Linked DNA regions of Homo sapiens. The protein of the gene in region 1 purifies or fractionates together with the protein of each later gene. This does not show direct contact. Each region holds a gene or a part of one and is shown in the gene's direction. Other genes may lie near its edges. The genes, in order: AP1S2, AP1M1, AP2B1 and AP1B1.

Region 1 (7,898 bases):
AGGTGAATATAACTGGGAATATTACTCTTCTAATGTTCTCGGGCTTAATGAGGTCAGCGATTAAAAAAATATTCAGATCTCAAGTTTCCTTTAGACCATGAAAATTATATCACAACTTTCTAGTTGGATATCATAGCTTTTTGTGGTATAGAGCAATGGTTCTCAAAGTGTGGTTCCCAGACCAGCAGCATCAGCATCACCTGGAAACTTGTTAGTAATGCAATTCTCAGGCCTCATCTCAGACCCCCTGAATCAGAAACTATGGGAATGAGGCCCAGCAACCTGTATTTTCACAAGTCCTCTAAAAGAATATTCTAGAACCACTGGTTTAGCGATTTGGAGTTGAGTTAGATCATTGTTGAAGCATTTCACTTCAAGGATCAAATCAAGACATTATTTGAAATCGTTTGTTTAAAACATACAGAATCTCTCTCTTATATTGCTGTGAATTAAGAGTGACATAGAAATTCATCGAACGAAAATATTGCGAAGAGCCCTGGGAGGTCATGAGAGCACATAGTTTTCAAACGTGTTGGTTACAGAAATCTAAGGTTCTATGAAGCATCTCTAGGGGTCTCCTAAAAGAAAATGTTCATACGTTTGGTTGATGACTATCCTTTGACCATCCAGGGTTTGTCTCTAAAAGACTAGAAATTCTGTGTCAGAAGAAATGGAGCTTTAGGACCAAGTCAATATCTTATTTGTCTTTATATCTTCATTACCTTCCAGAGTGCCCCAGCATAAAGTAGATACCTAACAAACATTTACAATGTATGTATGGATGGAATAGGCATCTCATGGATTCAAGTGCTTAAGTAACTTTTACTAATATTCTGGGGTCATTTTTTGAAAATCAGTTTGGATAGTTTATTCTAGTTGCTATTAAAGAATACTGACTGCTTTATGTATGCCTCCAGTCTTTTAAGCAGTTAAGGATTTTATCTAGCAGATATTAAGAATAATGGCTCCAACTCTGAGAAAGAAAGAGAGGGAGAGAGAGGGAGAGGGAGGAGAGAGAGAGAAAGAGAGGGAGAGAGAGAGAGAAACTTATATGAAGATAATGTTTGTTCCATTTCTTGAAATGTCTATAAAAATATGCTACTGCATGTTAATATTTTCAGTGACTAACCCAGGATTTCTTCCTGAACCTTGGCACTAGTGACATTTGGGGCTGGATCATTCTTTGCTATGGGATCTCTCTTGTATGTTGCAGGATGCTGGGCAGCATCCCTGGTCTCTGCCCACTAGATGCTGGCAGCATCACCTACTACTCCTAGTTGTGACAACCAAAATGTCTCCAGACACTGACAAGTGTCCCCTGGGAGGCAAAAGTGCCCAGGCTGAGAATCACTGCTCTATCCTAATGTTCATAGGGCAGTAGTAATTTTCCTGCATTTTATTCAAAGCTATGGAAACAGGCTTCGAGAAAGAGCATATGTTCCACATTTCTCTTTAGCTCATTGTTGAGGACTTTGGCAGTGACAGCTCTATCTATTTTGAAATGATTTGGTTCACAAATCCTCATTATTTTAGGCCATTTTTCTCCCTGGAACAACTTTATCTTTGGAGATGCAAATTCACAAACTCTAAACATCTTTTTTACACTTTCTGTGATCTACAAGGCTTCAGCACTGAATTCCATTATTGGGCATTTTTATTTAATAATTTCTAAATAATCTATAGACTGGCTAAAGGAACTCTGTATAAGTCCATAATACAGAGCTAGCAACTAATGGAATGGTTTTTATCTACCTCCTTACAATATTTTAAAAAATTATTTAAGAAAAAACCTAAGTAAAATGTAATAATACCCTTTATTACATCCTACTGCAAGATTCTGTCCATGGAAAGAAATTCACCATTGCTTCTGGGATTTACTTCCTGGTATCGAAAGAATATGCTAATAATTCTAGTTCGTGATTTATTTTAGATGTTATCTATTTTCTTCCCTTTAGCACATGAGGATTTAGCATTATTTCAACCTTCCCTCACTTCTGCTCCTCCATAATATCAATATATGACAATTTTTCTTTAAATCATCAGTGTTTAAATGATGAGCTGACAGTGTATCCTGACATCCTTATCGACATCCTCATGTAAATGTTCCCTCTCTTATTTTCCACGTGGGTATGTGTTTTAAATAGTCCCTTTAAAAAAAATTAATGGTATTTTGAGACAGTGAGAGGATAAAAGTATATGGCCATCACACATTTAATAGGAAACTAAAATTATTTTTGAAAACTTTGGAAAGATTACATAAAAAGTCTCAAAATTTTATCGTTAGAAGGTAAAGATTTCTATTTTCCCCTCACCTCTTACATTTAGCATAAATGACAGTGAAGCATTTTTTTCAAATTTAAGAAACAAGTATAAAATCTGATTTTTAGTTTTTCATGAAACGAATTTTGTATATAATTCTTGTATCAATATTAACACCAATAAATCAGGACCATCTAGAAAACAAAAACAGGATTAAAAAAGATAACCAATTGACATGACGGATGAAGAAGACACTAGGTGAGAAGAAACATGTATATAACAAAGCCTACAATTGGGAAATTGTGGGAATCAAAGTCAAGCAGTTAATTACTAACAAAGATGGCAACCATGTTTCTTTTGTCTTTCACAGTGAATGCATAATTAGCACTTAATACTAAGACTAGGGAATAAACCATCTATAATCTATTGAAAAAGACCATCTGCTTCTATAAATTTTGTTCTCATACACTTGCCAAAAGAAGAGAACATATTAACAAAATAATGGGCCCTGCACTGTTAATTGCTAGGTTGTTTGCAGTTGTGCTGTTGCTATTAGAATTTAATAAGCCATTCCTTCTGCTAAATTAATAAGCAGCCAAGATTATGTAATAGCTGCTTTCAGCTGCTAATTATTTTTCCCACAATTCCTTCCCCTCCCTACCCCTACCCCCACCTTTTTTTGGCTAGGAGCAGGAAAGGAGACTGCCAGTATGTCATCAGCAAGTCTCCCGTCCTCATTTTCAGAGCAACATTAGGAGCATAATCAGAGTTTAAACTTGGAAGTGGCTATCTCAGGAACCTTCAGGATATAAGTGTTTTGTACAGAAAAAGAGAAAAGCAGCATTTGGATTCAGAGGGCGAGTTTTCATTGTGTAGCATTAGAGCTATCTTTTAACTGGTTAATGGCATCTGTTTCTTGTAGTAAGAGAGAAATGGGACATTCGAAAGCACCTTTGGGGCATGACTAGGTAGGGAGAAATCTGGTGGGGGCGAGGGGGACCTAAAGAACTACAGAAAGCCAGCTCTGTGCCGTGTGTCGTCCCCTTTCTTTAATATTCCAGTATACATTAATCATACATGTTAGTAGGAAACTTTCCAAGCAGCACAGTAGTGCTTGAAAAGGGGAAGTATTACACATTTCTTTTTGTTTTGTCATACAAAAGCATTTTTTAAAAGCCCCCAAAACTACTGTCTTAGTTTCATAGATACTATAATGTACACAAAAAGAATATAATCCCTAATAAAGGATTCCTTTACATTGATTACATTTAGCTTCGTGAAAATTTTAGCATTTCTTTTTTTACTTTAGGCCATTAAAAAAATTCTGGCGACTATACTTAGGAACCTCTGCAAAAGGGGCATGGCCCAACAAAAGCAATTTTCTCGCTTCCTTTGTAAGAACCTAGGTGACTCGGGTAATGAATAGCATTTCGATATGGGAAACCCGTGGCTCTTCAAGGAAGGTCACCTAATCCCGTGGGACTCCCCTTTCCTTATCTGTAAATGACTAGATGATTCATCCATTCTATCATTCAGAAAATTATGAACATCCATTATGCCCAGGCATTACGCTCAGCATTACAGCTCTTAACAAATTTATCATTTTATAGTCTTTATCAGTCAACTCACATTTATTAGTTGTTATATACCAGGCTGTGAACTAGATTGAGATGCAAAATGAATACAATTTAAGGTGTGCTAAATAAAGGCTAACGGGCATGTGGGTGAAAGAGGGAATCGCTCTTACAGGGTTTTAGGGTGAGGCTTCATAGATGTGACATTTGGGAGCAAGGACATGCCAGGCACAGCAAGTCGTCGGCAGTGCTAAACTGGAACCCAGGCGGCTGGTGGGGCGACCCAGTGTGAAGGAAGCGGGATCTCGAAGGTGAGGTGCTGTCCGGGCTTTTCAGCCGAACGGACGGTAACTCATCCAGTCCGCAGCACCGAGGATGGGCGAGGCGAGCCCAGGGAACAGACTCCCGCGAAGCTCGGGGCGGAAGGTGTCTGGGCTAGGGCTGGAGCAGTGCAATGGGAAGGAGAGGGCGGATTCCGGACAATTTTGAGGCAGAATGATAGCAAAAGGCCCGTGAATGCGTGACGAGCTCCACAGAAGAGCTGACTTGTTTTTCCAGAGTTGCAGCACTCCCTCGTCTCCTCCCACCCTCCTCGTCAGCCGTCACACTTCACACTTCCTCTCTGGGGACACAGAGAATCATTAGAGCTCGAACGTGGCTCTTCGCTGTCCGGAACTTCCCTGCCCCGCACCACCCGCTAGGCTAAGGACGCTGCAGAATCCCGTCCTCCTATCATTAAACAAGCAGGACAGCCGCCCGCGCGCGTCCCGGAGGCACCTGCAAGAGCGCGCGGGCGCGCGGGCGCTCGGGCCCGGCAAACGCCGCTTCCGGGTCACGTGGCCCGGCTTCCGGTTCGCACCTCCCCTCAGCGAAGAAACCTCCAATCGGCTGCCTTGGACTCAGCGGTTACCCGCGCTGCCTCCGGTGCCGCTGGCGACCGCTGAGCCGCTTCCCGCGCGTCGCCTAGCCCGCCCCTCAGCTCGCCGCAGCCCCGGCTCCTCCCTCGTCCGGCCCCCGGGGCGGGGTCTGTCAGCTTGCCCTCCCCTCTCCGCCTAAGCCTGCCCTATGCCAGCCGGGTGTCCTCCCCACAGCACCACGGCTTCTCTTCCTCAGCACGGCGACAGGGGCTTCCCCTTCGCCGCCGCCGCCGCCGCCGGCCAAGCTCCGCCGCGCCCGCGGCCCGCGGCCGCCGTAAGTCCCTGGGGGCGAAAGGGGGCGCCGGGGATGGGGGAGAGGGGGAGGGAGGACTGGGCGCGCCCCCCGCCACCCCGCGCGCGCCCCGACGACCCCACCCCGAGCCTGCCCGGCCCGCCACTGGGTCGCCGCGCCCGCAACTCACTTCTCTCCGTGTCCGCGCCCTCCGCACCACTCCGCGCCGCGCCCGGGGATGTGGGGGCCAGTCCCGGGCTCCGCGACAGCCTCGCGGCACCTGTGGTTCGGGAATCGCCTCAAGTTTTGCGGGGCGCTTTCGGGAGGGGCCGGGGGCGGTGGCGGCCGAGGACTCTTGGCGCCCCCTGCGCGGCGGCGGATGCCATTGTCTGCTCCGCTCCTTGCCTGTCACCTCTCCCGGGCTTGGTCAGTGATGGAGTGTGGCCACGGGAGTGGGGGGGAGGCACCGGCGACGGCCGGACCCGAGGAACGCTGGCCCCGAGCCCGCGCCGCGGCTGAGCCCATTGTTTTTAATGCCAGTCTCGAGGAATTGTGGTGCCCTGTGATTTGCGGCAAAATCAAAGCGTTGGTTTTTAACACGAGGGAAGGAATACTCGTGCTTTGCAACCGGGTTTCGTCCCATGTTAGGACATAATTTATTTTAAGGAGAATACATTGTTTTTTCGTCCTGCAAAGTGGTAGGGCGGATACAGGACCCTGCTCCAGACAGCCTTGAGCCCATACTCTTCGCAGGCAAACCCTCACCCTTTCTGGTCACCAAGATCTAGGAATACGAGGTCCATTCTTTTCCAAGTTCTGGTAACGGGTTTGCAGTAAATGCCCAGTTGATGCTTCACTTCCTGCCCCCTTCGAATGCCGCTATCTTCAGGACTTGCACGGGAGGCACTTTGGTATCACCTAATAATGTCCTTATATTTTGTTCCCCTGACGCATTTTAAGTGAGGTAATAAGACCATTTTAACTTTACTAAAGTTGAATTGCCACGTCATACATTTCTAGATATCTTGTTGATACCTTTTTGGGTGGTTACAAAAAGCGACGATAATTTCTTACCGAAATTTAGGGCCCATTTTTATTCTACATTGGTTCTGTAAATTTCCCCTCCCCGTGTTCAAATTCAAGATGGTGTGGTGAATCTTGAGAATCATGCTTGAATCTTATTTGCAGTAACGCTGTTAAAGGAACTTAACAGTGATTAAAAGAAAAAAGGATACCTATGTGAATTCTGCCTTTAAATTACCTTTGTAGAAACAATACTTCTGTTTGCAGTTGAGATGACCAATTGGATTACAAAAAGCTTGGCGTTAAAAATGAAACATGCAGACTAATCAACACATTTGCAGATCACAAATAAATACATACAAATTAGTTTAAGTATAAAACACACTAGAATTCAGCATCCATTCCATCTGTAGATACTATTTTTTATTTTAAATGAAGTATTTCATGTAATGTTTCAATGCTGAATCTTATTTAATAAGTGTAAATCTTATTGTGGCCTTTTAAACGTTTGTTTTCTTTTTCATAATACATTAACTCAGTTCTAGATTTTGTACATATTTAAGTTGGAATGCTTTAAAAGTCAGATGAAAACATACTTTTTTATTAATGAAAATTTGTATTTATGGGATTTTTCAGTTAATATTTTGGATCATTCTGTTTTGCTTAAAATATGCCATCATAAACTGAGGAGAACATTCCAAGACATAAGCTACTGTCTGCAAGTAATTCACCCTGGAACTAGAACGGCCTCAGGATGAAAAATAGCAGGTCTTCTGTTTCTTTCAAAAGTACCCAAACCAGATGATGTCTACCATTCTCTTTTGATGCATATAGAGAGTGCGCAATGTATAGCACAGGTAGAAAATAGTTTCTTAAATTGAAAGAGTGATCTTTATTTTTCTTCAAAAATTTCACTTCAGCTTATTACCCATTTTTCTTTTTTCTCCTGCACACTCCCCTTCAAACTTAATGTGGAACAAGGTGGGATTGGAAGGTTTGCATCTAGAGGAAGATCTGTCCAAAAGAATTTCTTGCTATTTTAATTGGCATAGAAATATTGATGGCTACTAATCATTTGTCATGTAAATGCCCCATCCCCCAAAACTTCTCTGTGAAACACATAATCTTAACTTTATTGATTCAAAGTATTACATGTAATCTTGATTTTATTTATCTTAACAGATGCAGTTTATGTTGCTTTTTAGTCGTCAGGGAAAGCTTCGACTGCAAAAATGGTATGTCCCACTATCAGACAAAGAGAAGAAAAAGATCACAAGAGAACTTGTTCAGACCGTTTTAGCACGGAAACCTAAAATGTGCAGCTTCCTTGAGTGGCGAGATCTGAAGATTGTTTACAAAAGGTATAATTTTTGTTTGTCAGAAAGGTGAAATAGAATCAAATGTTAGGTCATTTAGGAAATTGCAGACTTCAGTGATGACATTTATAAATAACGATTAATAAAGATTTAGATGAAATAGGTTTAAGGTAAAGCTTTGTGTTTTTAAAATAACTAGTGTTTTGATTGATAATTACTGAGGCTGAAATGATAAAGGCAGGGAAATCCTTTGAAAACTAGTTATATAATTAAAGGCATAAATGATTATTCATGCTTAATCATCTTTATAGAAGAGTTTAATGAATTCATTTCATTGCAGGGGAAAGTAGGGTCAGTATTTTAAATTGTGTGAGTAATTCTCTGAATTGAGACAAGTACAGATAGAGTCTAATTCTTTTTCCCCGAAAATCTATAAAGTAATGACTAATATTTGACATGCCTTTTATCTGATTTTTAGAATCTTACTCACGTGTAAATACCTTGACTATGTAGACTATTTCAATCACATAGATGTTTTAAAAACTTTGTGTATACATGAGATGTGTTTGTAAGTAGT
Region 2 (7,029 bases), on another chromosome or scaffold:
TCAAGCTCCCAACCTCAGGTGATCCACCTGCCTCAGCCTCCCAAAGTGCTGGGATTACAGGCATGAGCCACCGCACCCAGCCCTCAGATATGTTTTTGTCATTTTACTCTTCCTTCAGGACTCCAGTGACATGAAAGACCTTTGGTTATTATATCATGTGTCCCTGAGGCTGCTTATTTTATTCTATCTTTTCTTCTCTCTGTTAGATTGGATAATTTACATTGAACTGCCTTTAAGTTCACAGGTCCTTTGGCCCTTTCCTGTTTATCTCCATTCTGTTATTATTATTATTACTATTATTATTATTATTTTTTTTTTTTTTGAGATAGGTTCCCACTCTGTCATCCAGGCTGGAGAGCCATGGAGCAAGCATGGCTCACTGTAGCCCCAACCTCCTGGGCTCAAGCGATCCTTCTGCTTCAGCCTCCTGAGTAGCTGGGACTACAGGTGTGCACCACCAAGCCTGGCTAATTTTTAAAAAAAAATTTTTGTAGAGATGAGGGTCTCTCTGTGTTGCCCTGGCTGATCTAGAACTCCTGGGGCAAGTGATCTTCCCACCTCAGCCTCCCAAAGTGCTGGGATTACAGGCATGAGCCACTGTACCTGGCCTCCATTCTGCTATTAAGTCCATTGAGCAAGTTGTTTATTTCAGTTACTATATTTTTAAAAATTTTCCATTTGATTCTTCTCTTTTTGTTTGTTTTTGTTTTTGTTTTTGTTTTGAGACAGGGTCTTACTCTGTTGCCCAGGCTGGAGTATAGTGGTGCAGTTATAGCTCACTGCAGCCTCAACCTCGTGTGTTCAAGTGATCTTCCCATCTGAGTGTGCTGAGTAGCTGAGACCACAGGCACGCACCACCATGCCTGGCTAATTTTTTTTTATTTTTTATTTTGTAGAGACCAGGACTTGCTGTGTTGCCCAGGCTAGTCTCGAACTCCTGGTTGATTCTTCTTTATCATCTGTTTCTTTGCTGAGACTTTCTATTTTAACATTTGTTGCAAGCATTTGCAATTTTAAAAATAGCTGTTTAAAGTCTTCATCAGATAATCCCAACATCTGTGAAGTGTTGACAGTGGTTGATTGGGTTTTCCAGGCAAGTTGACATTTTCGTGGTTGTTTGTATGCTGAGTAATTTTGGATTGCATCCTGGACTTTTTGAGCATTATGTGGTGATACTCTAGGTCTTATTTAAGCTATATGGGAAATATTGATATTTTTGTTTTAGCCAACAGCCAATCTTACTTTCAGGCCACAAGTTCCAATCCCCAACCTGTAGGCCATGAGCATCACGTCAGTTTTTAAAGCCCCCGTGCCATTTCCTGGTCAGATCTCCTGGGCGTGCACTGCCCAGTGGTCATTCTGGGACCCGAGTGGTTAGTTCAGTTCTCAAACTCTTTCGTAAGTCAAACTATGGTATATGCACAGGATTCACAGATGCTCGATTCTAGAGAGTTCTGGAGACATAAACCACTTCATGGGGTGACTTTCCTGAGCTTCTGGCTCTGTGCTGTCTACCTGGTACTTTTCTGATTCCTTGCGGTTTACTGTTGTACACGTCTGCCATTGGGCCCACTTCCCAGCCCACATGGAGAGAGGACAGAGAGAGAAAAGGACAACGGTTGCCCCACCCCCTCGGAACAGTAGCTGGCACCACAGGGCCTGGGGCATGAGGAACAGGGGAGATGGGGGGCTTCTGTGTTTTCCAGGAGAGTCAGGAGTTCCTCTTCTGGCCCCAGAGCCAGGCCTGGAGGCTCTGCTGAGCTCTCGTGTGCTCTGTGGTGCACACTTCTGCTTCCAGATTGCTGCTGCACTTTCTCGTGGGGGGCGGTGGGAACACTCTGCATTCGTGGCTCTTCCCTGGTCCACCTGCTGCTGTCTTCAGTCTTCCGGCAGCTGCCAAGCCTCCTGCCCAGGTTTCAGAGCTGTAGTCAGTGGCAGGGGAAGGGGCGCCAGCCGACCTGCCTCACCAGCCGCTTGCTTTCTTTTGTGTTCACGCTGGCCTCATCCCTGCGGTGTGGGTGGACTGTATGGGCTCAGCCAATCCAGTCATGCAGGTCACTCAGGTCCCGTTTCTGACGGCCACTGGCAGTGCAGCATTGAGCACGCTTGCTCAGCCCCAGACGTGTGCACTTGGGTGTCTCCGTGACCTGGGCCAGGATTTCTGGAGGACTGAGGCTGCAGACATGGAATTGCCAAGGAGAGTGCTGCCCAGAAAGACTGTCTCGCGCACTCCGTGCAGACCTCTTCGCTTTCTTACTTTCCGGGACGGGACAGTGGCCTCGCTAACCACATTCCCCTCTCCCCTGGGGACTCTTGTCTGATTGTTTATTGAGCCGAAAACAGGGTCCATCTGGGTGCTGTGGGGTGCAAAGGCAAGTCCCAGGGGGCAGCTTAGAGAGAGTCGAGCAGGAAAGCGCTAGGGCTGCGGGGGTCCCCGCCACAGTGCGCTGCTGCATGTGGCTCCGCCCGGAAGGATCCCACTCCTCCAAACAGGTCAGCACAAGGGCAGCTGTCAGGATGCCACCTTCCTAAGTGGCTTGCAGAGCTGGTGGCTGGGTCAACATTTGCCTCCAGATGCGATCATCTGAGTGCAGCCTGGTACTTACACAGCCGGGCCCTGAGCAAGCATCCCTTCAGCACCCGCCCTGGGAAGGGCACCGGCTCTGCGTGGCTGGTCACACCTCAGCTGAGAAGGTTCTGATTGCTGCCCGCAGGGCCGAGATCAGCCTCGTGGGCTGGGCAGCTTTTCAGCTCCACTCCCTGGGCCTGCTCTCGCGGCATTCACGACCTCATGTGTTCAGTTACAGCTGGCTGCCAGGGCCAGTCCCAACTCCCTGAGGGGGAGGCAGCACCCAAGGGGAATTAGGGGCCGTCACAGTGGAGTGGAGGGCCCTCCGAGAAAGAGGCAGGCAAAATCCCAATGCTCGGGCTCCTGGAGCCCCGGCCAGTGAGGGTCCCGAGCTCCTGAGCCTCCGCTTGCCCACTGAGCACCTCCTGCCACACACGCTGTTTCTGGTGCTGGACACGGCAGCGCGCAGCCCCACGTGGCTTCCCCCAGCAGGGAGAGAGAGAGAGAGACAAGCAGGCAGACGCAGGGAAGCTGTTGTGCACCATGGGATCAGGGAGCCGCTTGCGAGATGAGGACAGGACAGCACGAGGAGGTGAGGCTGGGGAAGGTGACAGAACCGGAGCCCTTGGGGCCATGTCCGGTTCCCTGCCCCTCCCAGGGCTGTCATTTGCTTGGCACCTCAGTTTTCCCAATTCCCTCAGAGGCGGCAAGCTGGTGAGGGGCTTTTGTTTGTCTACCCAGTGCTTTTTGGACATCATGCATAAGACTGCACAGACTCTCCTGCCACTCTGCAGACAGGAAATGCAGGCCCTGCACATGTTAGCCTGGCTGGAGCCAGCATCTGGGCCCAGGTATCCAAGTCGGTGGCCTTTGGCCCACTTGCTGGTGTGAGCATGGCCTCGTGCAGCATAGCAGTGTGCAGTGGTGGCCAGGGCTGCAGCCCCAGCGATTCTTCTGCCAGTCACTCTGTGCCCTCAGCACGGGGCCTCTGATCTGTGCCTGTTTCCTCACCTCTAAAATGGATGCAAGAAGAGATGCTCCAGCATCTTGGCTCACGCAGGACAGGCTAGGGGGTGCAGGACCGTCGCCCCGGTGTGGATTTTCAGTTGCACTTTCAGATGCATCTCGGCATGCGCAGTGGGTTACAGCCCCTCAGGTCATCTCCCCACAGTCCCTGCCCCAGAGGTTGTCGAGGCGTGTGTGGAGCAATGCCTGGCGCAGTGGAAATGCTGTCAGTGTTAGCCACTGTGACTGGATTTAAGTTGATTATTTTGGATCAAGTGTTATCACACTTCAGGGTGGCCCTGAGAAGCAAGAAGGGGTCAGGACTCAGGAAGCACCATCTCTCATAAGCCCTGGGGGGTGAGGGGCCAGTGGCCTCCCTGGGAGGCCAAGAGGAGAAACAGCTTTCAAGAAAAGCAAGTCTGGCCTGGTTCAAGAGACCCCAGCCCAGCCCAGCCCATCGGCTGAGCAGGGACCACAGGGTCCTGGCCCAGGTCCAGCCGAGCTCATGGACTCTCAAAGCTGACTCAGCGTGGGGACCAGCTGCCGGGCCGGCCCGGAGCATTCAGGGGGCTCCTGGGAGGGAGGGACTGGTACCTGATAGAGAACCCTCAGAGGGGGCTCCAGGCACGCATCATCAGGTCCCAGTGTGGCCTGAGGCCTAGAGGGCAGGACCCACAGTGTCCACCTCATGTCCACAGGGCCTCGGCATGAAGGCTGGAGGGGTGAGCCTGGGGACCCTCAGCCAGGCGTGGGTTGGTGTGGGTTAGGGGTAGACCTTAGCCACAGCTGGGACTCTCCCAGCTCAGGGGATGCCCAGGAGAGGGATGGGCTTGGAGGTGAGAAGGGCGTTGAGAGTGGGGTGGCCAGAGGGTCACATGATGTGGTAGGAGGCAGTGGCTGGTGAGTTGGGGACCTCCCCTCACGCCCACACCGCCACCCCCAGGTCAGCGCCAACGGCAATGTCCTGCGCAGCGAGATCGTGGGCTCCATCAAGATGCGAGTCTTCCTCTCGGGCATGCCCGAGCTGCGCCTGGGCCTCAACGACAAGGTCCTCTTTGACAACACGGGCCGTGAGTACCCTTGCCAAGGGCCCTGCCCATGAGGATGGCCTCACCAGGCACACACATTACAGCCTAGGGCAGGGTTGGGCCAGGCGGAGGAACGAGCTGGTTTCAAGCACTTGGTTGAGCAGCACTTCACACTGCTTGAGACAGCTGTGTAGAGTATTCATCCTTCCCTGGACATAGAAGGTGCAGGGGAGTGAAGATCCTCCAGTCCAGCTGGGAGGCCCCCGTCACCCGGCCTCACACGCCAGGTCCTGCACCCTGCCCTGCTCTGCCTGGGGCACTGGGGCCTAGGCTAAGGCCTTGCTCTCTCCCTCCCAGGCCAGGTTTCTCCCCTCACCTTGGGCCCTAGGTGTGGGCCGTGTGAAGGCCACGCATGGTGATTCTCGCTCCCGCCGCCTGGCCTCTAACACTTCCCACAGCAGGGCGGGGGCAGAGGGGCCCAGGGCCTGGTTTTGTGAACTGTGCCTCCCACTCAGCTGTCACAGGCCACTGGAAGAGGGTGCAGTGGCTGGGCATGCCCCCGTTCCTAGCCCGGTGAGGGCTTCTCGGGCATCAGTCTATCAGGGCAGCTCCCCGCCTGGGGCTGGGCAGGGCCCCACCCACATAGCCCTCAGTGAGGTGGCAAACCAAGGTAGGACCCAGGACCCCGTGGATGCCAGGGCCTGAGCCCTTGGGGAGCCCCGAGCCATCCCCCAGCCAAGTCCACTGATCAATCATTCAGTGAACGTGTCCTGAGCAGGTCCCCTGGCTGGGCCCTGGGATGGCCGCTGGGGACTCAGCATGAACCAGACCCACCAGCCCTGCCCCTGGGGACCCCAGGGGTGTGAGGAGTGATGGGGCAGTTGTCTTGGGACCCAGCCCCCTTGGTGTTTGTGGCCCAGGCTGCTCTCAGTGCGTGGACTGGGGGCCCTGCTCTGCCGGGGTGGGTTGCAGGTGGTAGGAGTACTGCTGAGATAGTGACCCGGAGGGCCCAGATCTGTCCTACCCTCACCCCTGACCCCAGGCGGCAAAAGCAAATCCGTGGAGCTGGAGGATGTGAAGTTCCACCAGTGTGTGCGGCTATCACGCTTCGAGAATGACCGCACCATCTCCTTCATCCCACCCGACGGCGAGTTCGAGCTCATGTCCTACCGTCTCAACACCCACGTGAGTGCGCCACCCTGGGGCTGGGCTGTCGGCAGACTCCTCCTCCCCTTCACCTCCAGGAGGTGAAGCCCAGGCAGGCGCCAGGGCCAGCCCCACCCCACGCTCCATGAGCTGCCTGGCTCTGCAGAGATGGAGTCTGAGGACTTGGGACTCCGAGCTTTCTGAGGGGCACAGACCCCTTTGGCCACCACCACCCCTTTCCCAGGCAGCCCCCAGAGCAGGCCCTGGTCATGTTTTCTGCATTTGCCCCAAGGCCTCCCCGGTAGCTCCCGGCTACCTCGGCCTGTCTGCCCTGGCCCTCCCTGACGCTGGCTGTACGCTCCCTGCAGGGCTCTGGGCCCACACCTGGGCAGATGGTCCCTTGCCCTGGGCCTTGGTTTCCCCTCTGAAATGGGCCTTTGTCAAACAAGGCCAGGTGTGAGCACCCTCTTTGCCCTCCTTGGCAGGTCAAGCCTTTGATATGGATCGAGTCGGTGATCGAGAAGCACTCCCACAGCCGCATCGAGTACATGATCAAGGTGCGTGGGCCGAGGCCACCCACTGAGGGCCTTCTGGTGTCTCTGGCCCGTCCCAGGAGCCTAACCGAGGGCTGGGGGTGCCGTAGGGCTGCCATCCGTGCACCCTCACTGTGGCCTCAGATGCAGGAGTGACCTGACACTGAGGGGACACCGCCTGGGGCCTGCTCCTAGATGGTGCCACTTGTGGGGAGGGGCCTGTAGCCAGGCATCCAGGACACTCCCAGAGGTGTTGCCCCCAGGTGGAGCACCTCTGCCCCTCAGCGACCCTGTCCAGCGCAGCCTGGCCCTGGGACATAGACATTGTCCTAGGAGGGCAGGGCAGAGGGAGGGATGAGGAGCCTTGGAAGCTGAGCAGACAGGAGGATGAAGATGAAACTCCTGAAATTAGGTCTTGGGAGAGTCTCGAGGGCAGGAGAAGGGGTGGGTAGTGCCTGGAGAAGTGGGGCCAGGGGCGGGGCTAGGGAGGATCCCCCGGGCCAGGCTGAGGGGCATGTGTCCTGGAGAGGCTGGCCAGCTCACCTTGGCCTCCATAACCCCGGGCCGCATTGGCCTGGCCTGCAGGCCAAAAGCCAGTTCAAGCGGCGGTCAACAGCCAACAACGTGGAGATCCACATTCCCGTGCCCAATGATGCCGACTCACCCAAGTTCAAGACGACGGTGGGGAGCGTTAAGTGGGTCCCCGAGAACAGCGAGATCGTGTGGTCCATCAAGTCCTTCCCGGTGA
Region 3 (7,122 bases), on another chromosome or scaffold:
TGATTTCGGCTCACTGCAACCTCCTCCTCTCAGGTTCAAGTAATTCTCCTGCCTCAGCCTCCCTAGTACCTGAGACTACAGGCATGTGCCACCATGCCTGGCTAATTTTTGTATTTTTAGTAGAGTCAGGGTTTTACCATGTTGGCCAGGCTGGGCTCAAAGTCCTGACCTCAGGTGATCCACCTGCCTTGGCCTCCCAAAGTGCTGTGATCACAGGCGTGAGCCACCACGGCCAGCCTCTTGAAGATTTTTCTAATGACATCTTTACGAAATCTACCTCTGTCTGCTAGCAGTTGTACCTTGAACGAGTTTTTTCTCTCTCTCTCTCTCTCTCTCTCTCTCTCTCTCTCTCTCTTTCTTTTTAGAGACGGTCTCACTCTGTCACCCAGGCTGGAGTGCAGTGGCATGATCATGGCTCACTACAGCCTCAAACTCTTGGGCTCAAGTGATCCTCCCACCTCAGCCTCCCAAAGTGCTGGGATCATAGGTGTAAACTGCTGTGCCCAACTCTGTAACCAGGTTTTTCTAACCTCCTCCATTCCTTATGATTTAACCCAGCAGTATAGTTATCGATTTGGTGATGAAATTTGGGGAATAGGTCTAGGCTAGAGATAAGAGATTTTGGAGCCATATATGTAAGAAAGATAATTAAAACCATGGTATGCTAAAGGGTTAGTGTAGAGAAAATGTATGAGTATAGAACTAAACTTGAAAAAATTGGCTGAGTTTGGTGGCTCATGCCTATAATCCCAGCATTTGGGGAGGCCAAGGCAGGAGGATCACTTGAGCCCAGGAGTTGCAGACCAGCCTGGGCAACATGGCAAGACCCCCTCTCTACAAAAAAAGAAAATTAGCTAGGCGTGGTGACACATGCCTGTAGTCGCAGCTACTTGGGAGGCTAGGTAGGAGGATTGCTTGAGCCTGGGAGGTCAAGGCTGCAGTGAATTGTAATGGCACCACTGCACTCCAGCCTGGGCAACAGTGCAACACCCTGCCTCAAGAAAGAAAAAATCCTTGCCACTGTTTTCCTCAGATACCATTTCTGCTTTCTTTGGTCATACTTTCTTATGAGTTATCTGCAACTCCTGTTTTTATTTCCTCATTTCTAATCCATCCTCAAACATCTGCAGTATGACTTTTGCCTTCATATCTCTACTGATTTCTCAGCAATAACATCAAATACCTCCATGTTACTAAATCCTGTAGACACTTTTTAGCCCTTCTCCTGTCTATGGCAACTAATATTGTTGATCACTTATTTATGCGTTTAGTCAACATATATTAATTTGTGTGTGTGTGTGTGATGGGGCTAGCCTCATGTGTGCAAGAGTGAACAGATTGGTATAGTCCCTACTTTCATGAAACTCTGAAAACATCCTAAAATATACTATTCTGCTTTTCCTCCTACCTCTCTGACTACTCCTTCTCAGTCCTCTTTGCATTCTTGGGTTTATCTGTTTCTACCCCAAGCACTCACTCTCCACATTCTTCATGAATAATGTTCATGCCCACAGATTGAATTATCATCTGTATGCTCACAGTTCACAAATTTAACTCCAGATCATTCCTTATCTTCAGACACATATAATCAAGTACCTCTTGGGTAGAGATCTTCACTCTAACCTAACGTATAAAATGAACTCATCACCTCCCTATTCTTCCCCAAACTTCTGCCATTTCTTATATTTTCCTATTTTCAGTGACTAGTACCACCGTTCCTCCCTTGCCCTAACCTAAAACATAAGCCTTATCAGCCCTAGTGTCAGACTTCCTGGGTTCAAATCTTAATTCTACCTTTGTGTGTGTGTATGTGTGTGTGCGTGTCTGTGTGTGTGACTGCAAGCTCCGCCTTCCAGGTTCATGCCATTCTCCTGCCTCAGCCTCCTGAATAGCTGGGACTATAGGCGCCCGCCACCACGCCCTGCTACTTTTTTTTTGTATTTTTAGTAGAGATGAGGTTTCACCATGTTAGCCAGGATGGTCTCGATCTCCTGACCTCGTGATCTGCCCGCCTCAGCCTCCCAAAGTGTTGGGATTACAGGCGTGAGCCACCGCGCCCAGCCATCTTAATTCTACCTTTTAACTTCTCTGTATCTCTTAAAATAGAGGAAGTAATAGTACCTACTTGGTTATCAGGTGGTGCGGATGTAAAAATGTACTTAGCAGAGTAACTGACATAAAATCATAATAAATATCAACAGTTATTTGTTTAAACCACCATCATCGTGTGGCTGGATCATGTCAACAGTTTCCTGAGTGGTCTCCCATTAGATTATGAGCCCGTGATGGTCCCAAAAGGTGAAAAGAAGGGAGATTGGTCCATACTTTCACCCAAAAGTGGAAGAGAATGAAGTTGGAAAAGCTTTCGGATTGATGCTATATTTTGAAAATAGTATTGGTTCATTTTTCCTTAAAATATATGCATTTTTCAGAGAAAGGAATGGAAAATAAAACAAATATAAAGAAGATAACATTTGTAATCAGCACCCAGAGGGAACCACTAATAGGTATATATACTCCTCTGGATTTAGAGTTTTGTATCTTTTTTTTTTTCTTATTTCAAAGCATTTTTCTGTATCATATTTTTCAACAATATGATTTAAAAGGCACATCCCAACATAGAAATAAATACATGTTCATTGTAGAACACTTTGAAAAATACAGAAAAATATTAGGAAGAAAAATAAAACTCTCACTATCCTGCAATAACCACTTTTAACGTTCTGCTGAATATCCAAGCTTTTTTTTTTTTTTTTTCTTTTGAGATGAGTCTGGCTTTGTTACTCAGGCTGGAGTGCAGTGGCGAGATCTGGGCTCATTGCAACCTCTACCTCCTGGGATCAAGCCATTCTCCTGCCTCAGCCGCCTGAGTAGCCGGGATTATAGGCGTGTGCCACCACCCCCAGCTAATTTTTGTTTTTTCAGTAGAGACAGGGTTTCACCACATTGGCCAGGCTGGTCTCAAACTCCCGACATCAGGTGATCCACCCACCTCAGCCTCCTAAAGGGCTGGGATTGCAGGTGTAAGCCACCACGCCTGGCCTATCCTAGCCTTTTTTTTCTATACATATATAGTCATACTGTATACTGTATTGTTTGGTGTCCTTTTTTTGCTTAACACTTTATGAATTTTCTGTCATAAAATATTCTATAACATTATGCAGCTATCTGATTTACCATAACTGTTTGCATTCTCTCACCTTATACCTGGCTTTCTAATTTCCCCTATTCCCCTATTTTAATAACAGAGGAAATAATAATACATGAGTATGTTATACAAAATTTTAATGTACTTCTGATCACTTTTTTAAGAATGAAGTTTTAAAATACTGAAACACTTTTTGACTCACAGAGTTCATAGGCAAAATGTGAGAAAAATCATCACTTTGCTCTCCATCCTTCCTTACACCCTGAAATTAACCTTAGGGACAGCTAGTTCATTTAACATCATCAATCTTGTTCTCCAGTTCCAGGTCCTGGAATCTAGCTCTTAGTGTCCGAAAGAAACTTACTTTTGTGTAAGCACACCTATTATATACTAGGCACTTTACCTAATTTATCTGGTTTAAACTTCACATGCCCGAGAGAGATACTATCATTGTCTTCATTTCACAGATAAGAAGGTTGATGAGACATTAACTGTCTCAGTCACATTCAGGGTAGGGATTCAAACTCACATCCAATGCCTCCTCAACCTCTTTTACGTGCAGCACTATCCTCTAGCCCCACTGCCCGTATATAGGCCTGGGCTATATCACCATTGTCCGCCCTTGAGCCTGGAAGGAAAATGAGCTGAGGGGTTTTGTTTTTTCAGAAAGGAACAGGATATTTCATCATCTCTATGTTTACGTTTTTCAGAGAATTTCTGTGCGAGGAAACAAATCCATTGTCAGCTTTTTAAAATATATCCCTTTGGAGTAGCCACTTAACATCCTCTGAGGCCCAGATGGGCTAGCTTGCCGGGACCAAAGGAAATCTTTGGGTCTGGAAGGCGACAAGAGATCACAGGCTTTCTAGGTCTACCGCGCACCCCGATGACGTCACGCGGCGACGTTCTCTGACGTCAGAGTTTCCTGCCCACCATCTTTGTCCCTGGCAAAGTGGGTTTTGCGCAGTGGCTTAGACCTAGAAAAGAATCGTGACGGGCAGGAAACCATTACACCACCACCTGGGCTGTGCTCTCCGGCTCCCGCCGCCACCCCCGCCCTCGCCTTCGCCTCCGCCTCCGGTGAGTTCAGGGCGGTTGCCTTTAGGGTGTGTCCCTAATTGACGGGGTCGGGGACGGAGAGAAGGGTAACACCAGGCTGGGTCGGAGACCGGCGGAGGCGAGGAAATCCTAAGAGCGTGACCGTTGATGATGCAGGGAACCGTCGGGTGTGACCATTGAGAGGGAAAAGGTTGGAGAAAGGGTCTCTACCATGATGCCTGTGGTGCGGTGAGGGAATCCTCGGGTGTGGCAGCAGGTAGTTGGGGGCAGGAGGGGAAGATGTGTTTCGGAATTGAGGGTTTAGGGGGACCAGAGGCCAGGGGTGTGGCTGATAGAGCCTGGAGGCCGTGGGGGGAACCGTCTTTCTTCCCCGCTCGGCGTCGTTCACTGAGAGGCTGAGACGTGTCCAGCAAGCCAAAGGGAAAAGGGATTCCCTCAAAGGTTTGCTCATTGATGGGCGAACGTCGTCTCTCGGGTAACTTGAGGGTAAGAGACAACCTCTTCCCTGCTCCGTAATGGAGGAGCATATCGCTAGAATCTTGACCACCTGGGGAAAGAAGAGGCATTCCTTACTCTTGGAGGAAGGAAAGAGTAACCTCCAGAATTGACCCGATGTAAGAGAGGGGGAAGCAAATGGGGGCAAATCTTAACCCAGCATCTTTTTTTTTTTTTTCTTTTTCTGGGCTCTGCAGTAATGGTCTGGTTTGGGAAAGGCTGTAGATTAAGCTGAAAGTAAAGAAACTGGAACGTCCTGTTATTTCCTTATCATTTGAATCCAAATCATTTGTTCATGCTGCTTGTTTTCAAGAGTAGTCTTCTATTGGAGGGGTGGGGTGGGGGGGGACAGGCCTTTATTGAACTCACGCGGATGCTTCATTAAACTTTTGACTTTTATTTTATTTTATTTTTGTATTTTTAGTGACAGGGTCTTACTGTGTAGCCCAGTCTGGTCTCGAACTCCTGGGCCCAAGCGATCCTCCCGCTTCGGCCTCCTAAAGTTTTGTGATTACAGGCGTGAGCCAGCGCGCCCAGCCAAACTTGACTTTTGAGAAGAAAAAATGTTTTGAAAACTGCCAAAGACTTATCATAACCATTGTGGTTTAAAAGAAAGTAAATGCATTAAGCTTAGAAAGGCAGAATGACTAAGAAAGAAGGTGGTCTCAATGAGAATCAATTTAAATGATTAGTTACCTTCCTTGTATACTTCAATTGCTTAGCCTCAGGGTACACTTACAAAGTAGTAATAGAAAGCAGCAGATGAAGGAGGTGCAGCTCTATAAGAAAACGTGTTAAGACATTCCAGTGATGACTAAGCGTGCTGGTAAGGTGAGAACTGTTTGCAGTATCTTAGCCGTTGAAACTTTCAAGGAAGCAGAAAGGATGATGTATAATGCAAACATCCTCACTAAAAGCTGGGTGGTAAAATCAATATAAATCTAATATTCTGACTGTGTATGAAGAAACTCAAGGAAGTCCAGTTCTTTCATTCTTTCTTTCCTTAAAAGATCCATATTTTGAAATACTAACTTTTTAGGCACAGGTTTGAACGAAGCTGAGCAAGGAATATATTAAATAGGGCACGTTCTCCTTTCTCTTGTCCTTTCTTTCCTTCTAGCCTTAGGTTTTCCAGAGTTTAATGTTATTTTGGTTAAGAATTAGATGTAAAACTTTTGAACTCCTTTGCTTCGTTATAATATTAAGAAGCTACTTTGTAGTCTGTTATGTTTAAATAGAAATCACAGGTGATTTTAGCTTTTGTGTCTCATAATTTCTTATGAGCAAGGTAATACCTGATGATGCTATTGTCTTTGCATTATTACTGAATATTTGATTAGAAATGAATTTGGCACCTCTCACCTTTATAATAAAAGATTACTGGAATGACATTTCTGCTTTATAATTTGGTTAACTTTGGCCAGTTTTTCACTATGAGCACTGAGCTTTGTAAAGTCCCACTTTGTGAAAAGAAGGGTTTAGTGACTTTACAAACTAATTTAGCTTCCCAGAGAGCCATTTGAATTAAGACCCTATTAATTTTTTTCTGACCTTATTCTACCCAAGGTATTAATCTTATTTTGCTGCTCAGTTTCTCTTTTGGGGAACTGGAGGGAGATATAGGAGAGGAGGGACTTTGACAACCTATATTTGGTAGAAACTAGGTTATGTTAAATCTGGATATATAGTCCTGTGCAGGGAGGCCTTCTCCGAAATGCAGTGACATCACACTCTGGTCGAGGGCAAGTAAGAGTGATTATGTGCTTTGACTCTGGCAGCTTTGTTGTTTAACAGTGGCCTTAGGCCATACCGTAAATCCTCAGAACAGCCGTTACTTGTCTGGTTTGATCTGGTAGAAAGGTAGTGTGAGTTCAAATTCCATCATGGCTTTGCTTATTTCTCTGGCTCTTCTGAAGGAACATTTTCTCCCCCCATAGGAGCAGCTTGATTTTTGAGGCACTTCAGCAAATATTAGATTTTTTTTTTCTTTAGCTCTATTTTGTTTACTTTTTCTGTAACTTCTTTTTTTTTTTTTTTTTTTGAGACGGAGTCTCACTCTTTCGCCCAGGCTGGAGTGCAGTGGCGCGATCTCGGCTCACTGCAAGCTCTGCCTCCTGGGTTCACACCATTCTCCTGTCTCAGCTTCCCGAGTAGCTGGGACTACAGGCGCCCGCCACACGCCTGGCTAATTTTTTGTATTTTTAGTAGAGACAGGGTTTCACCGTGTTAGCCAGGATGGTCTCGATCTCCTGACCTTGTGATCCGCCCGCCTCCCAAAGTGCTGGGATTACAGGCGTGAGCCACCGCGACCGGCTGTAACTTCTAATGAAGACGTCAGTTTTTGCCATCCTGTATTTTGGAGACTCTGGCTATGTCCATATCTAGCATGTGATTAAGTGTATCTCTCATTATATGAGGTG
Region 4 (7,000 bases), on another chromosome or scaffold:
CTTCCCATTGGCTGCCCAGGCAGGGCTAGAGTCTGGAAGCCAGATGCTGGGCTGCCTCCTGCCTTGGAAACAGCCAGCCTACTGCTCATCTGCTGCTGGCCCCCATGTAACCAAATTGCAGACTCTGGTTCACCCCAGAATTGGAGGACCACGTGCCCTCCATTCTGCCTGCCTCTGTCAGCCTTCCCTGCACAAGTGCCCTCCTGCTGGGCAGGTGCCAGAGATGCCGTCAGCACGGCTGCTGCTGGGCTTCCTGCACTGCCACTCCTGCCCTCCTGCTGCAGACCTGTCCCTGGCACAGCCTATGGGCTCCCACTGCCCCTGACTCCGGGAGCATCAGGCTGCCCCCTTGTCCTAGGACTAGCAAAAATGAGACCGTGACTAAGGAAGGATTATGTGCAGAGACTTGTTCTCGCATAGATGTTTCTTCAGTCAGCAAGTATTTCTTAAGTGCCTGCTATACACCAGGCACTAGATTGGGCAGTAATTAGTGACACGACAGTAAGCAAGACAGACATCACTCCAGCCCACAGGGGGCTCACTGTACAGGATAGCCAGCAACTGGTGGCGCTGTGACGGGGTGGAAGAGGCTGCAGAAGCATGGGGGGTCTGGAGGTGGGGTTGGCATGAGATCTGAAGGGTGAGGAGGTGTTGGCCAGGATGAGGGCAGCTTTGGGTATGTCCAGGCATGTGGCAGGGGCCGGTGGAGGGCCACCAGGAATAGTTCCAACCCTCTGGTAGAAGCACAGGTCCTTGACGGCAGGCTCTGTGGGCCCTGCTGCCCCAGTCCCCTGGGCCTCCATGGGACTGTCGCCACTTGTTGACAGATGGTCCTGATAAGAAGCACTCCAGCCACACATGTGAGCTTCTCATAGTTCTGTGAATTCTAGAGCTCCAACAGGTTTCTAAAACCCTAGGGCTGGGCAGCGGCCCCTGGCCTACTTGGGTTTGCCAAATAGTCCAGTATTCAGCTCCTTCCTGAGTGAGTGATGCCGAGGTCTGGCTGCTCAGCGGCACCAACACTTGTGGCAGCCCTTTGCCTGTGTGCCGTGACAGCCCCAAACCTAGAATAGCTATGCTTGGCTTCCAGGGACTTTGAACACCCTATTCCTCTTCAAGCCTTTTTGTTCTCCCTCTATCCCCATGTGAGGCCCACACTTCCTCCTCGTCACCGCTGTTCCCTGCAGGTCCAGCTGCAGCTGCTGACAGCCATTGTGAAACTCTTTCTAAAGAAGCCAACAGAGACCCAGGAGCTGGTGCAGCAGGTCCTCAGTTTGGCCACTCAGGTGGGTGCCCCAACCTCCCCGCTGTGCCCAGCATAGCCCTCACTCAAGCAGGGGAACTTTTGTCCCAGGAACTAGACCTGGAAGCCAGGCCCGCTCCTAAGACAGGTATCTTGTGGGTGGGACTGGCTTCCAGCCCCAGAGTTACCCAAGCTCCCTGCCTTCAGGGTGCTTAGAACACAACACAAAGTGCAGTGAGGTCAAGTAGTGAAGTTGAGACAAACTAGACAGAGGAGGAGGGCCCATGGAAACCTGAGGGTGTGTGTTGGGGGCAGGAAGGGCAGGCCACAGAGGGCGGTTGGGAGTAGAGACAGGCATGGCCAGGCTGGAGTAGAGTACCATGGGGAATGAGCCCGGGGCCAGGGCATGGCCCTGTAGGTGGTATAGGGGCAGGCTCATGGGAGCACTCAGGACTGCTGTCCCCATTGGCCACCCCTGTGCCGCACCTGGCTCATGGCTGCAGGAAGGTCTCCTCCCTTCTCACCTGGCTACTCTGAGTTTCATGGGCTTCTCCTCACCCCCACAAGGACTCAGATAACCCAGACCTGCGGGACCGTGGCTACATCTACTGGCGCCTGCTGTCCACGGACCCGGTGGCAGCCAAGGAGGTGGTGTTGGCTGAGAAGCCACTCATCTCTGAAGAGACGGACCTCATCGAGCCCACACTGTTAGACGAGCTTATCTGCTACATCGGCACGCTGGCTTCCGTCTACCATAAGCCTCCCAGTGCCTTTGTGGAGGGGGGCCGGGGCGTCGTGCACAAGAGCCTGCCACCTCGCACGGCCTCGTGAGTGAGACTGGCCAGTCGGCCTGCGCCTTCACACTCTGCTTCCCCAGTTTAGCAGCACAGGCACTCAGGCCTGGCGTGTTGTCCCCCAGCAAGACCTGAGTCTGAGGAAAACTGACAACCTTTTATCAGCTATTTATTGTACACAAGGTATTTGCTAGATGACCTCATTCCAGCCTAACGACAGTGCTGAGAGCAAATGTCCCCATTCTTCAGGTGGGAACAAGAGACAAGGAGAGCTTGAGGGACTGGTCCAGGATCTCACAGCTAGCAGAGCTGGGACTCAGACCAGTTCTGTCTCATTCCAGATCCCTGTCTGCGCCTCCTCCTCTGTTGTTCCCAGGTGGTTGGTGTGGCCTGGTGGCACCGTCCTAGGGCACTGGCATCCAGTTTTCTTCTTAGCATGGGCTGAGGGCTAGAAGCAGGCGGCCCTCTCCCTTCACTCATCCTCACGGAGGACCTGAAAGATGGACCTGCTGTGGGAATGGGAATGGGGAAGAAGTGGGGCCGTGTGGACAGCCCTGTCGGGGACAGTGAGGAGACTCAGTGCCTGTCCTGGGGGACAGCTCTGCCTGGAGGCTGGGGTCTCTTTGACCTTCCTGAGACATCCTGATGCCTCCACCCTACTTCTGTGTCCCGGCAGGAGTGAGAGCGCAGAGAGCCCTGAGACAGCCCCTACTGGAGCACCTCCTGGGGAGCAGCCAGATGTCATCCCCGCCCAGGGCGACCTGCTGGGTGACCTCCTCAACCTGGACCTCGGCCCCCCAGTGAGCGGCCCACCCCTGGCCACCTCCTCGGTGCAGATGGGAGCTGTGGACCTTCTTGGCGGTGGCCTTGACAGCCTGGTATGTTGTGGGCCCCCTCTGGATGATGTTGATAATGATCCTCAGAGGAGCAGTCACTGAATGCCCCTCCATGCCAGGCACCAGCTGAGTGCCTCAGGTACATTATATAGAGTCCTTACCATTTACCCTTGGAGGTGATTGTGTAGCTCCCTACTTATGATGAGAAAACCAAGGTTTAGAGAGGCCAGGCAGCCTTCCCTCCGAGGTCGCACAGCCCCTGAGAGGCAGACAGGATTCCACTCCCTTGTTGAACCTTCGAGTCCCAGGAGACCCTGGGCAGGGAGGCGCATCCTAGCCCTTGCCCTGATCCTGGCATCACAGTCACCTTTGCCCTGTAAGGCTAGGGTGTTCCTGGCTTTGAGGAATCAGACTTGTGTCCACTTACCCTTATGCAGCGCCAGCTGGGAATAGCAGCCCATCCAGGCCTATTTGAGAGGGCATGGGAGGCCGGGGAGAGAGGGGAGTGGGAAGACAGTAGGGAGGGGAGTGGTGAGACTGACTTGGGTATCTCCCTGGGGCTTCCTCAGGCAACTGGCAGGACCATGTGTGGGGGCGCCTAAACCTCTTCATTTGGCTGTGCTCGGCTCAGGTCCGCACGGTGGCAGCACGGGGGCAGGACACTGGTGATCAGTGCTGCTAGGGTGAGGCAGGAAGGGCTGTGGTGCAGGACAGGTGTTGGGGTAAAGGTGTGGGGTAGTGCCTTTCATAGAGACAGGGTCTGGGCCTCTCGCCAGACCTCACACCACACTCCTCTCGGATGGAGCTACCGTTGACTAATCTCCCTCTTTCCCTTCTCTCTCTTGTTTCTCTGTCTTCCTTCCTGGCTTTTTCTCTCTGCATGTGGCTGCCTGTTCTCTTCACCTGCCTGCTTCTGCTTGGAGATGGGGGATGAGCCTGAAGGGGTATGGTTCAACCCTTGCGTCACCAAGCCTTCGTCCTTGCTCCTCCCGAAAGCGCTGGCCCAGCATCCCAAGGGGCGGGGGCGGGTGATGTCACAGCAGCCTCCACCTGCTGAGCCCCTGCCTTGGTCCAGCATCCTGGCAGCCTCTGTCTTGACCACCTGGCATCCGGCTGCCACTGGGCCCCATAGCCATGGATTCTTGCCCAGTCCTCACCACCCCATGACACGTCGCCTTGTCATCGCGGGGATTGCCAGCCCTCAGTCCCACAACCCTTCTCTGATGTCCTGGAGGGAGAGCACCCATCTGCGTAGCATGTCTCCACCCAGCCGTGTGTCTTGGGACCTCCTTTTATCCATAGGCTGAGCGTCAATTTGGGAGTGTCCCCAGCCCTTTCCCAGAGGTTACTCCTAAGGCTCAAGGCTTGCAGGGCACGGGAGGGCTCAGCCTCTCTTCTCCACCCACCTCTCTCTGTCTTGTTTCTGTAATTTAGAGTTGATATGGAGGCTGTCCTGCCCCCTGCCCCCAGTGTCTTCTAAAGAGCCAGGTGGCTCTACTCATTCCCAGACCCTGATGTCTTTGCCTCTTGACGCCCACCTCTGACTCTTTCCCTCCCTTTCCAGATTGGGGGCACCAACTTCGTGGCACCTCCAACAGCAGCAGTACCAGCCAATCTTGGAGCACCCATCGGCAGTGGCCTGAGTGACCTCTTTGACCTGACCAGTGGCGTGGGCACCCTGTCAGGATCATATGTGGCCCCCAAAGCAGTAAGTCACTTGTCTTCTGTCTTGGCGGGAGCAGAGAGAAGTTATGGAGACTGGCATGTGGGCTCCTTTAAATGGCCTCGGCTGTGGAATTGGCTCAGGCCAGCAGTGATGAGGGAAGCTGGGGGCCACAGGGGCACCGAGGAAGAGGAGCTAAGTCAAGCTTGGTGGGTACCTAGGAAGGCTTTCCAGAGGAGTCGCAGGACCTCAGTAGCTGAACAAAAGCGGATAGGGGCTCCAGACCAAGGGAACAGTCTGTGGTAAGGCCTGGAGGGAAGGGAGACCACGGCCTTTGTGAGGGAATCAGCAGAGGCCTGTCAGGTGGGAGCAGTAGTTCTCAGTGCCATCAGACTCAGCACCCCTTAGTCATCATAGACATTTTACATTGTCACCATTCCTCTCCTTAAATGCAATTGGTGGGCTGTGTAACCTACCTACACATAGCATTCCAAAAATACTCAGATGCTTTCACTGCATGGAGGAGACATAAAAGGGAGAGAATACAAGTGTATGTATCAATGTTATAAACGTCTGGGCACGCCTGCCCGCTCACCCCAGAAGACATGAAGTTGCCAGGTGTTTGCTGCAGGGCAAAGTCACTGTGACTGTGGCAACCACAGTCTGGGTGTTTGTAGCCTGGACCCCGTGAATGGTTTGGCCAGTGGTGCCATTTGTTTCTGAAGTGGTCACTGACTCCCAGTAAGGTTTGGAGTAAGATAAAGAACAGGCTTCCCTCGATTTTCCTGAGAATTGTGTTCCTGGAAGTCTCAGGATATGTTGAAACCATGCAGAAAATACTGGAAGGATGCAGGACAGTTGCTTGTTGTGGGGTGGTTGTCCCCATGGTAGGATGTCCAGCATCCCTGACTCCAGCCCACTACATGTTATGCCACCTGAAGATGCCCACAGATGCCCACTATGCCACCTAGGGCACACCCCCAAGACTCCTGGCTAGACTAGGGATCAGTGAAGGAGGAAGCTGGCAAGGCTGGCGGGCCAGGCTGAGCGTTTCTTCTTGATCCTGGCACAGCCGGAGCCATTGGAAAGTTTTAAGCAAAGAGATGAACCAGTCTGATTTGCACTTGAGAAAGATGGCTGCGTCTGCAGGGAAGGGGTGGGGCAGAAGCACCGGCCCCGGGGGATTCCGTGGCAGGGAGGAGGAGTGCTGGGGCAGCTGGACCACGGGGGCTCTTGTGGGTGGAAACAGCGGCCAGACTTGAGAGCTCCCTGGGAGGGAGGAGCCGGGGCTGAGGGAAGGAGAGTTGAGTTTGGGATGTGAGGACATGCGGGCCTGGCACTGAGGAGAGCTCAGTGTGGGCCATGTTGTCAGTGTCAAGGAAGCTGCCAGAGGGGACCAACCAGGCCTGATCCCCTCATCACACTCAGATCAGAAGTTGTGTTTGCCAGAGCTCCCCTCTCTCTTCTGAGGTCCCCACCCCAAAGCAGGATACAGTTGGCGGTCAGGGGCAGTGACAGCTCTGTCATGACTAGGGAGCCATGAGCCAGCACCTCCCCACCCCCTGAGCTGGCTTTCCCCACCATATGCCAGCTGCACCTGCAGTGGTGGTGACTGGAGCCCCTGGCAGGGTCTGGGCACTGAGAGGCCCACAGCAGACAGCAACTCGGACACTAGTAGCCGCACACTTCCTTGTAGGGACAGCACAGCATTCCACAGCCACCGCCAGCACGTCCTCCTCCCAGCAGCCCTTTGTGGCTCTTCCTCCTATTTCGTGGTTGAGAAATCCTAGTGCTTTTGCCTAAGGTCACATAGCTGGTGACAGAGTCTGGAAGTGAAAGCAAGTGACACTAAAGCCTCTGCTCCAGACCCCTATATGATGGTCCCCACAGAGCGTGAGAACCACCTGTGCACCTGCCTTCATGCGTGGGGTGTCAGGGCCAGCAGGGCCACGGGAACGTAGAATCGCGGCATAACGTACAGCATGTGCAGTTGACTTACTACCTGGATTAGCTGCACCAAGGCATGAGGCCAACTCGTACTCACCAGAAGCCCAATATCACAGGCATACAAAGCAGGACTAAGGGACAGAGAACAGCAAAGACTCCTGTAACCCTGTGGGTGCCAGCCCTTGCCAGGCACTGCAGAGCTGCCAGGAAAAATAAGCCTGGAGCTGGCCTTTGGCAAGCTGGCACTAGGCTTGTGTGTTCATCTTTTTTTTTTTTTTTTTTTGAGACAGAGTTTTGCTCTTGTCACACAGGCTGGAGTGCAATGGTGCGATCTCAGCTCACTGCAACCTGTGTCTCCGGGGTTCAAGCGATTCTTCTGCCTCAGCCTCCCGAAGTAGCTGGGATTACAGGCACCTGCCACCATGCCTAGCTAATTATTTGTATTTTTAGTAAAGACAGGATTTCACTATGTTGGCCAGGCTAGTCTTGAACTCGTGACCTCAGATGATCCACCTGC

The links.
Region 2: the proteins of AP1S2 (region 1) and AP1M1 fractionate together in Homo sapiens (co-fractionation; 7 studies listed by BioGRID and IntAct, with this or other methods). This does not show direct contact.
Region 3: the proteins of AP1S2 (region 1) and AP2B1 purify together in Homo sapiens (affinity purification with mass spectrometry; 4 studies listed by BioGRID and IntAct, with this or other methods). This does not show direct contact.
Region 4: the proteins of AP1S2 (region 1) and AP1B1 purify together in Homo sapiens (affinity purification with mass spectrometry; 6 studies listed by BioGRID and IntAct, with this or other methods). This does not show direct contact.

Annotation. Positions count from the first base shown.
Region 1 is NC_000023.11:15,851,814-15,859,711, reverse strand, and holds the start of AP1S2 (AP-1 complex subunit sigma-2), read left to right. Parts: upstream 1-4,898; 5' UTR 4,899-5,024; intron 5,025-7,187; coding exon 7,188-7,366; intron 7,367-7,898. UniProt on the Homo sapiens protein: Subunit of clathrin-associated adaptor protein complex 1 that plays a role in protein sorting in the late-Golgi/trans-Golgi network (TGN) and/or endosomes.
Region 2 is NC_000019.10:16,221,904-16,228,932, forward strand, and holds part of AP1M1 (AP-1 complex subunit mu-1), read left to right. Parts: intron 1-4,517; coding exon 4,518-4,644; intron 4,645-5,644; coding exon 5,645-5,787; intron 5,788-6,233; coding exon 6,234-6,305; intron 6,306-6,866; coding exon 6,867-7,025; intron 7,026-7,029. UniProt on the Homo sapiens protein: Subunit of clathrin-associated adaptor protein complex 1 that plays a role in protein sorting in the trans-Golgi network (TGN) and endosomes.
Region 3 is NC_000017.11:35,583,201-35,590,322, forward strand, and holds the start of AP2B1 (AP-2 complex subunit beta), read left to right. Parts: upstream 1-4,121; 5' UTR 4,122-4,228; exon of another isoform or gene 4,229-4,463; intron 4,464-7,122. UniProt on the Homo sapiens protein: Component of the adaptor protein complex 2 (AP-2). Adaptor protein complexes function in protein transport via transport vesicles in different membrane traffic pathways.
Region 4 is NC_000022.11:29,336,571-29,343,570, reverse strand, and holds part of AP1B1 (AP-1 complex subunit beta-1), read left to right. Parts: intron 1-1,187; coding exon 1,188-1,286; intron 1,287-1,810; coding exon 1,811-2,070; intron 2,071-2,713; coding exon 2,714-2,915; intron 2,916-3,796; coding exon 3,797-3,817; intron 3,818-4,437; coding exon 4,438-4,581; intron 4,582-7,000. UniProt on the Homo sapiens protein: Subunit of clathrin-associated adaptor protein complex 1 that plays a role in protein sorting in the late-Golgi/trans-Golgi network (TGN) and/or endosomes.